Homo sapiens: one gene and its partner. The protein of the gene in region 1 purifies or fractionates together with the protein of each later gene. This does not show direct contact. Each region holds a gene or a part of one and is shown in the gene's direction. Other genes may lie near its edges.

Evidence for each region.
Region 2: the proteins of AVIL (region 1) and WDR62 purify together in Homo sapiens (affinity purification with mass spectrometry; one large-scale study listed by BioGRID and IntAct). This does not show direct contact.

The regions. Positions count from the first base shown.
Region 1 is NC_000012.12:57,799,308-57,801,734, reverse strand, and holds part of AVIL (advillin), read left to right. Parts: intron 1-522; coding exon 523-591; intron 592-1,814; coding exon 1,815-1,940; intron 1,941-2,427.
Region 2 is NC_000019.10:36,061,397-36,064,896, forward strand, and holds part of WDR62 (WD repeat-containing protein 62), read left to right. Parts: intron 1-3,500. UniProt on the Homo sapiens protein: Required for cerebral cortical development. Plays a role in neuronal proliferation and migration.

The DNA.
Region 1 (2,427 bases):
GAATTTCGCTCTTGTTGTCCAGGCTGGAGTGTAATGGCACAATCTCGGCTCACTGCAACCTCTACCTCCTGGGTTCAAGCAATTCTCCTGCCTCAGCCTCCCAAGTAGCTGGGATTATAGGCATGCACCACCATGCCCAGCTAATTTTTCTATTTTTAGTAGAGATGGGGTTTCACCATGTTAGTCAGGCTAGTCTTGAACCCCTGACCTCAGGTGATCCACCCGCCTCAGCCTCCCAAAGTGCTGGGATTACAGGCATGAGCCACTGTGCCTGGCCTTCAACTGCTCTTTCTTAAATCTTATTGGGAGGACTGAGGGGTTACCATCAAAGAATGTGCGTTATGTTTAAGCACCTTTCAAGCCTGCATGGACCCAAAAGGGGGGATTTTCATTTTTACTTATCCTTGAAATGTCTTCTGACTCCCTGGCTCTTTTGCTTTTCCTGAAGACACAGACCAGACCTAAGATGTCCCTCCCCTATAAGAAAGACCTCATCCTGTGTTTTCTCTCTCTTCTTCTCAGGCAGGAAAAACATATGAACAATTAAAAGAAGAGCTGGGAGATGCTGCTGCTATCATGCGAATCACTGCTGTGAGTCGGGTTCGCTCTTGGGAGAAGCCAGCCACATGGGCAACCAGAGCCAGAGAACACACAAATGCTACAGATGCTCACAGGCAAAACTCATGTCCTTAGTATTACCATAGTTGTCTGTTTTGATGTAAAGACTTTTTGTAATCAATAGAAAAGCAGGTCTCAGAGCCAAGTTCCTTATTTTCCTGACTTCCAGATTTTCAAACAGACTTGCTGTGTAAAAACAACAAAAATGGGGCCGGGCGCGGTGGCTCATGCCTGTAATCCCAGCACTTTGGGAGGCCAAGGCGGGTGGATCACCTAAGGTCAGGAGTTTGAGACCAGCCTGACTAATATGGTGAAACCCCGTCTCTACTAAAAATATGAAAATTAGCCGGCCGTGGTGGCATGCGCCTGTAGTCCCAGCTACTCGGGAGGCTGAGACAGGAGAACTGCTTGAACCCAGGAAGCGGAAGTTGCTGTGAGCTGAGATGGCACCACTGCACTCCAGCCTGGGCAACAGAGCGAGAGTCCGTCTCAAAAACACAACAACAAAAAAATGAATATTTGTTTTATTATTCAACTCTGCCGTTTAAGGAGAGATTAAAGTCATTGGCAGTATTTTTCAGAAATAAGCTTCTAACCCAAATGACATTTTTATTCATTTCTGACAGTGAAGTCCACAGAAACTTAGGCCATTTACACCTATTTTAATGGTTAAAAGAAGTGGAGCCTCTAGCCAGGAATCCAGCAGTTCTTTAACCTCAGGAGGAGTGCATGGCACCAGGTGTTCAAACCATCTGGCAATTCTGTCCTTTGTGCTCTACAAACTCAGATTCCAAAGCTAATGTTGATGTAGTATCTTTAAATTGTATTTAAGTAGGACTACAACCTAAAGTCATTTAAAGGCTGGAAATGCAGGGCTAAATAAAAGTACCAAGAGAAGGTATGTGATCCCAATATTCAAATGAGATCCAGACACAAGATGTATGCCAAACTAGCTATACAGGACTTGCCTTGGACTTACTGAATCAGCTTTCCCAAGAACAACCCCAAAATCTGAATATTTTCTATTCCCAGATGATTCTGACATGCAGCCAGGTTTGGGGAGCATTGTTATCAAAGATGATTACAGAGGGTGAAGTGGCATAAGTCAAAATGTTAAATATTATACACATTCAGAACTGTAACCACACAGACACTGAGGAGTCTTTTCCCTGTGCCTACATTCTTATCTTACCTAGGACATGAAGAATGCAACCCTCTCCCTGAATTCTAATGACAGTGAGCCAAAATATTACCCTATAGCAGTTCTGTTGAAAAACCAGAATCAGGAGCTGCCTGAGGATGTAAACCCTGCCAAAAAGGAGGTGAGTGGCTGAAGGAACTGTGTCTGTTGGAAGTGGAGCTCTCCGTGAGTAAAAAACTCAGCTCAGCAAATGGCCTAGGACAGCTCCGGCACATTGTAGCCGCTCAATGGACATCTGAGCTACCTAGGAACTCAAACCAAAAAAAACCAGGGTTCTTTCTTGATTCTTTTCTCTCCACCTACATCAGTCTATCAGCTAGCTTCTGTTCACTCCTCTTCCATTTCTCTGCTACTAGTCTAGTCCAGCTATCATGGACTACTTACTACAATCCAACTGGTTTCCACCTGTTCCTACAATCCGTTCCCCACACAACAGCCAAAGAGATCTTTAAAATATATGGCACGGCCCTGTTTAAAACACCTGGAATAGCTTCCCACTACATTTAAAAAAAGAATGTGAAGGCCTATACAATCTGGCCCCTGCCTAGCTCTCTGATTTCATTTCATATACCAATACCCTCATCACTCACCACCCTTCAGCCAGTACA
Region 2 (3,500 bases), on another chromosome or scaffold:
TCACACACACTTGCCCAATATAGTATGTTTTAAAGGTTGGATAAGTGGACAACATTTCAAGTTTTTTAACACAAAAATCCAAATGTCCCTTTTGTTTGGAGAAGTGAGAAATTCTCTGGCCTCTGGGGCCCAAATTCCCCTGTGGCAGTGAGGGGCTGAGCTTAGTGAAATTTGTCAGGCCCGTTGTGGCCAGTTCCTCACACCTGTGTTGCCTCCCTAATCCCTGTAGGCAGTGGAGTGGGTGGCCTGGATCTATAGTAGATGGTATGCAGGTGTCCGCCCTTGGCCACCAGTGGGTGTGCATTAGGAGGTGGTGTGGCCAGTGTGGGGATTTTCACTCCAACTGCATATCAGAATCACCTGGTCCCTGTGCCTCACCGCCCCCCCACCGCCACGCAAGAGAAAGCCAAATCAGTTGATCTGGGATGAAACTTGGGCATTGGCAATTTTGAGACTTTTTATATTGAAATAATTTCAGACTTAGAATAGTACAAAGAGCTCCTATATACCTATGTACCTTTCACATATTTCACAAATGTTAGCTTTTTTTTCTTTTTTTTTTTTGGACACAGAGTCTTGCTCTGTCACCCAGGCTGCTGGAGTGCAGTGGCACAGTCTCAGCTCACTGCAACTTCCACCTCCCGGGTTCAGGTGATTCTCATGCCTCAGCCCCCCAGGTGGCTGGGACCACAGGCATGTGCCACCATGCCCAGCTAGTTTTTTGTGTTTTAGTGGAGACGGGGTTCATCATGTTGCCCAAGGTGGTCTTGAACTCCTGAGCTTAGACAGTCTGCCTGCCTCAGCCTCCCAAAGTGCTAGGATTACAGGTGCGAGCCACTGCACTTGGCCAAATGTTAGCATTTTACCACATTTGCTTTATCATTTTTTGTCTATATACATATTAATTTGTTCTGAACTATTTGAGAATCAGTTGTAGACATGATGCCCCTATATCTCTAAATACTTCACGCCAGGCATGGTGATTCACGCCTGTAATCTCAGCACTGTGGGAGGCCTTGGAGGCAGGAAGATCATTTGAGGTCAGGAGTTTGAGACCAGCCTGGGGAACATGGCAAAACCCTGTCTCTACTAAAAATACAAAAATTAGCCAGGCCTGGTGGCAGGCGCCTGTAATCCCAGCTACTCGGGAGGCTGAGGCAGGAGAATCGCTTGAACCCGGGAGGCAGAGGTTGCAGTGAGCCAAGATCATGCCACTGCACTCCAGCCTGGGTGACAGAGCAAGAGTCCGTCTCAAAAAAAAAAAAAAAAAAAAAAAAAACTTAATCAAATAAATACTTCAGTGTGTATTTCCTACAAAAAAAAATGACAATCTTTTTAAACTGTAATACATCCAGCAAAATCAGGAAATGAAAATTGATATATCACTCTCATCCACTCCCCAGAGGGCACCATTCAGGAGTCAGCCTTTGTCCCATGAATGTCCTTTATGGCCAAAGGATTCTGTCTAGAATCACACATTGCATTGAGTTGTCCCCTCAGTCTCTTTCAGGCTGACGTGGCTCCTCTGTCTTTTCTTGACTTTCAGGATCTTGACATTTTTTTTTTTCTTTTTGAGATGGAGTCTCTGTCGTCAGGCTGGAGTGCAGTGGTGGGATCCTGGCTCACTGCAACCTGACTCCCCAGTTCAAGTGATTCTCCTGCCTCAGCCTCCCGAGTAGCTAGGATTACAGGCATATGCCACCATGTCCGGCTAATTTTTGTATTTTTAGTAGAGCTGGGGTTTCCCCATGTTGGCCAGGATGGTCTCGATCTCCTGACCTTGTGATCCGCCCGCCTTGGCCTCCCAAAGTGCTGGGATTACAGGCGTGAGCCACAGCACCTGGCCACTTTTTTTTGTTTTTTTGTTTTTTGAGACGAAGTCTCACACTGTCGCCCGGGCTGGAGTGCAGTGGGGCGATCTTGGCTCGCTGCAGCCTCCACCTCCTGGGTTCAAGCGATTCTCTGCCTCAGCCTCCTGAGTAGCTGGGACTACAGGCATGCGCCACCGTGCCTGGCTAATTTTTGTATTTTTTTTTAGTAGAGACGGGGTTTCACTATGTTGGTCAGGCTGGTCACGAACTCCTGACCTCGTGATCCACCCGCCTCGGCCTCCCAAAGTGCTGGGATTACAGGCTTGAGCCACTGCACCCGGCCAATCTTGACACTGAGGATTGTAGACGAGGTATTTTGTAGAGTGTCCCAGCATTTGGGTTTGTCCAATGCCTCCTCACGGGCAGACTCAGGTTCTGCATCTTTGGCAGGAACAGACCAGAAGGGGTGCTGTGTTCTTCCTGGTGCCTCCTCTCAGGAGGTCTCCTATGACTGGTGGTGTTCACTGGGAGCACTTGGCCAAGGTGTTGCCTGCCAGATTCCTCCACTTCAAAGCCTCTCTTTTCACCTTTGTGATTAGCAGGTATCCTGGGGACATCTTTCCTGAGACAGTGCAAATATTATCTTGTTCCTCACCAAACTTTCACTCAACTAATCTTAGGCTTTGACACTTTTCAGATGCTCCCCAGGGAAATCTAATGTACAGCCAGGACTGAGAACTACTGGCTTAGAGGTCAGGGCTCTGCCCTGTCTGGTTAGGTAACTGCAGGCAGGGGACTTCCTTGTGTTGCAGTCACCTCATCTGCCAAGTTGGTTCATGAGAGCCCTGACTCCATGAAGCATGCTTGAGGAATCAGTGCACTGATGGCCAGACAGCATTTGCCAGAGGGCCAGGCACAAGGTCAGGGCATGCGACAGGTTAGAGGTGGCTACGGGCAACAGAAACCCCTCCACAGCATGGCTTAAAACCCAAGAGCATGCTCTTCCTGCATGTCATAAGTCCAGAGGTGGGCAGCCCAGGGGCTGTGTCTCTGAACGCCACATTTTTTTTTTCTGTCTCTCTTTTTGAGACAGAGTCTCACTCTGTTGCCCAGGCTGGAGTGCAGTGGCGCGATCTTGGCTCACTGCAAGCTCCGCCTCCTGGGTTCACACCATTCTCCTGCCTCAGCCTCCCAAGTAGCTGGGACTACAGGCGCCCACCACCACGCCTGGCTAATTTTGTTTTTGTATTTTTAGTATAGACAGGGTTTCACCGTGTTAGCCAGGGTGGTCTCGATCTCCTGACCTTGTGATCTGCCCACCTCAGCCTCCCAAAGTGCTGGGATTACAGGCGTGAGCCACCGCGCCCAGCCCCACTTCTTTTTTTCTCTAGACGGAGTCTTGGTCTGTTGCCCAGGCTGGAGTGCAGCAGCACGATCTTGGCTTGCTGCAACCTCTGCCTCCCGGGTTCAAGCAATTCTCCTGCCTCAGCCTCCCGAGTAGCCGGGATTACAGGCTCCTGCCACCACACCTGGCTATTTTTTGTATTTTTAGTAGAGGTGGGGTTTTGTCGTGTTGGCCAGGCTGTTCGCGAATTCCTGACCTCAAGTGAACCACCCACCCCTCTGCCTCCCAAAGTGCTGGGATTACAGGCGTGAGGCACCGCACCCGGCCCCCATTCCTTCTCTCCT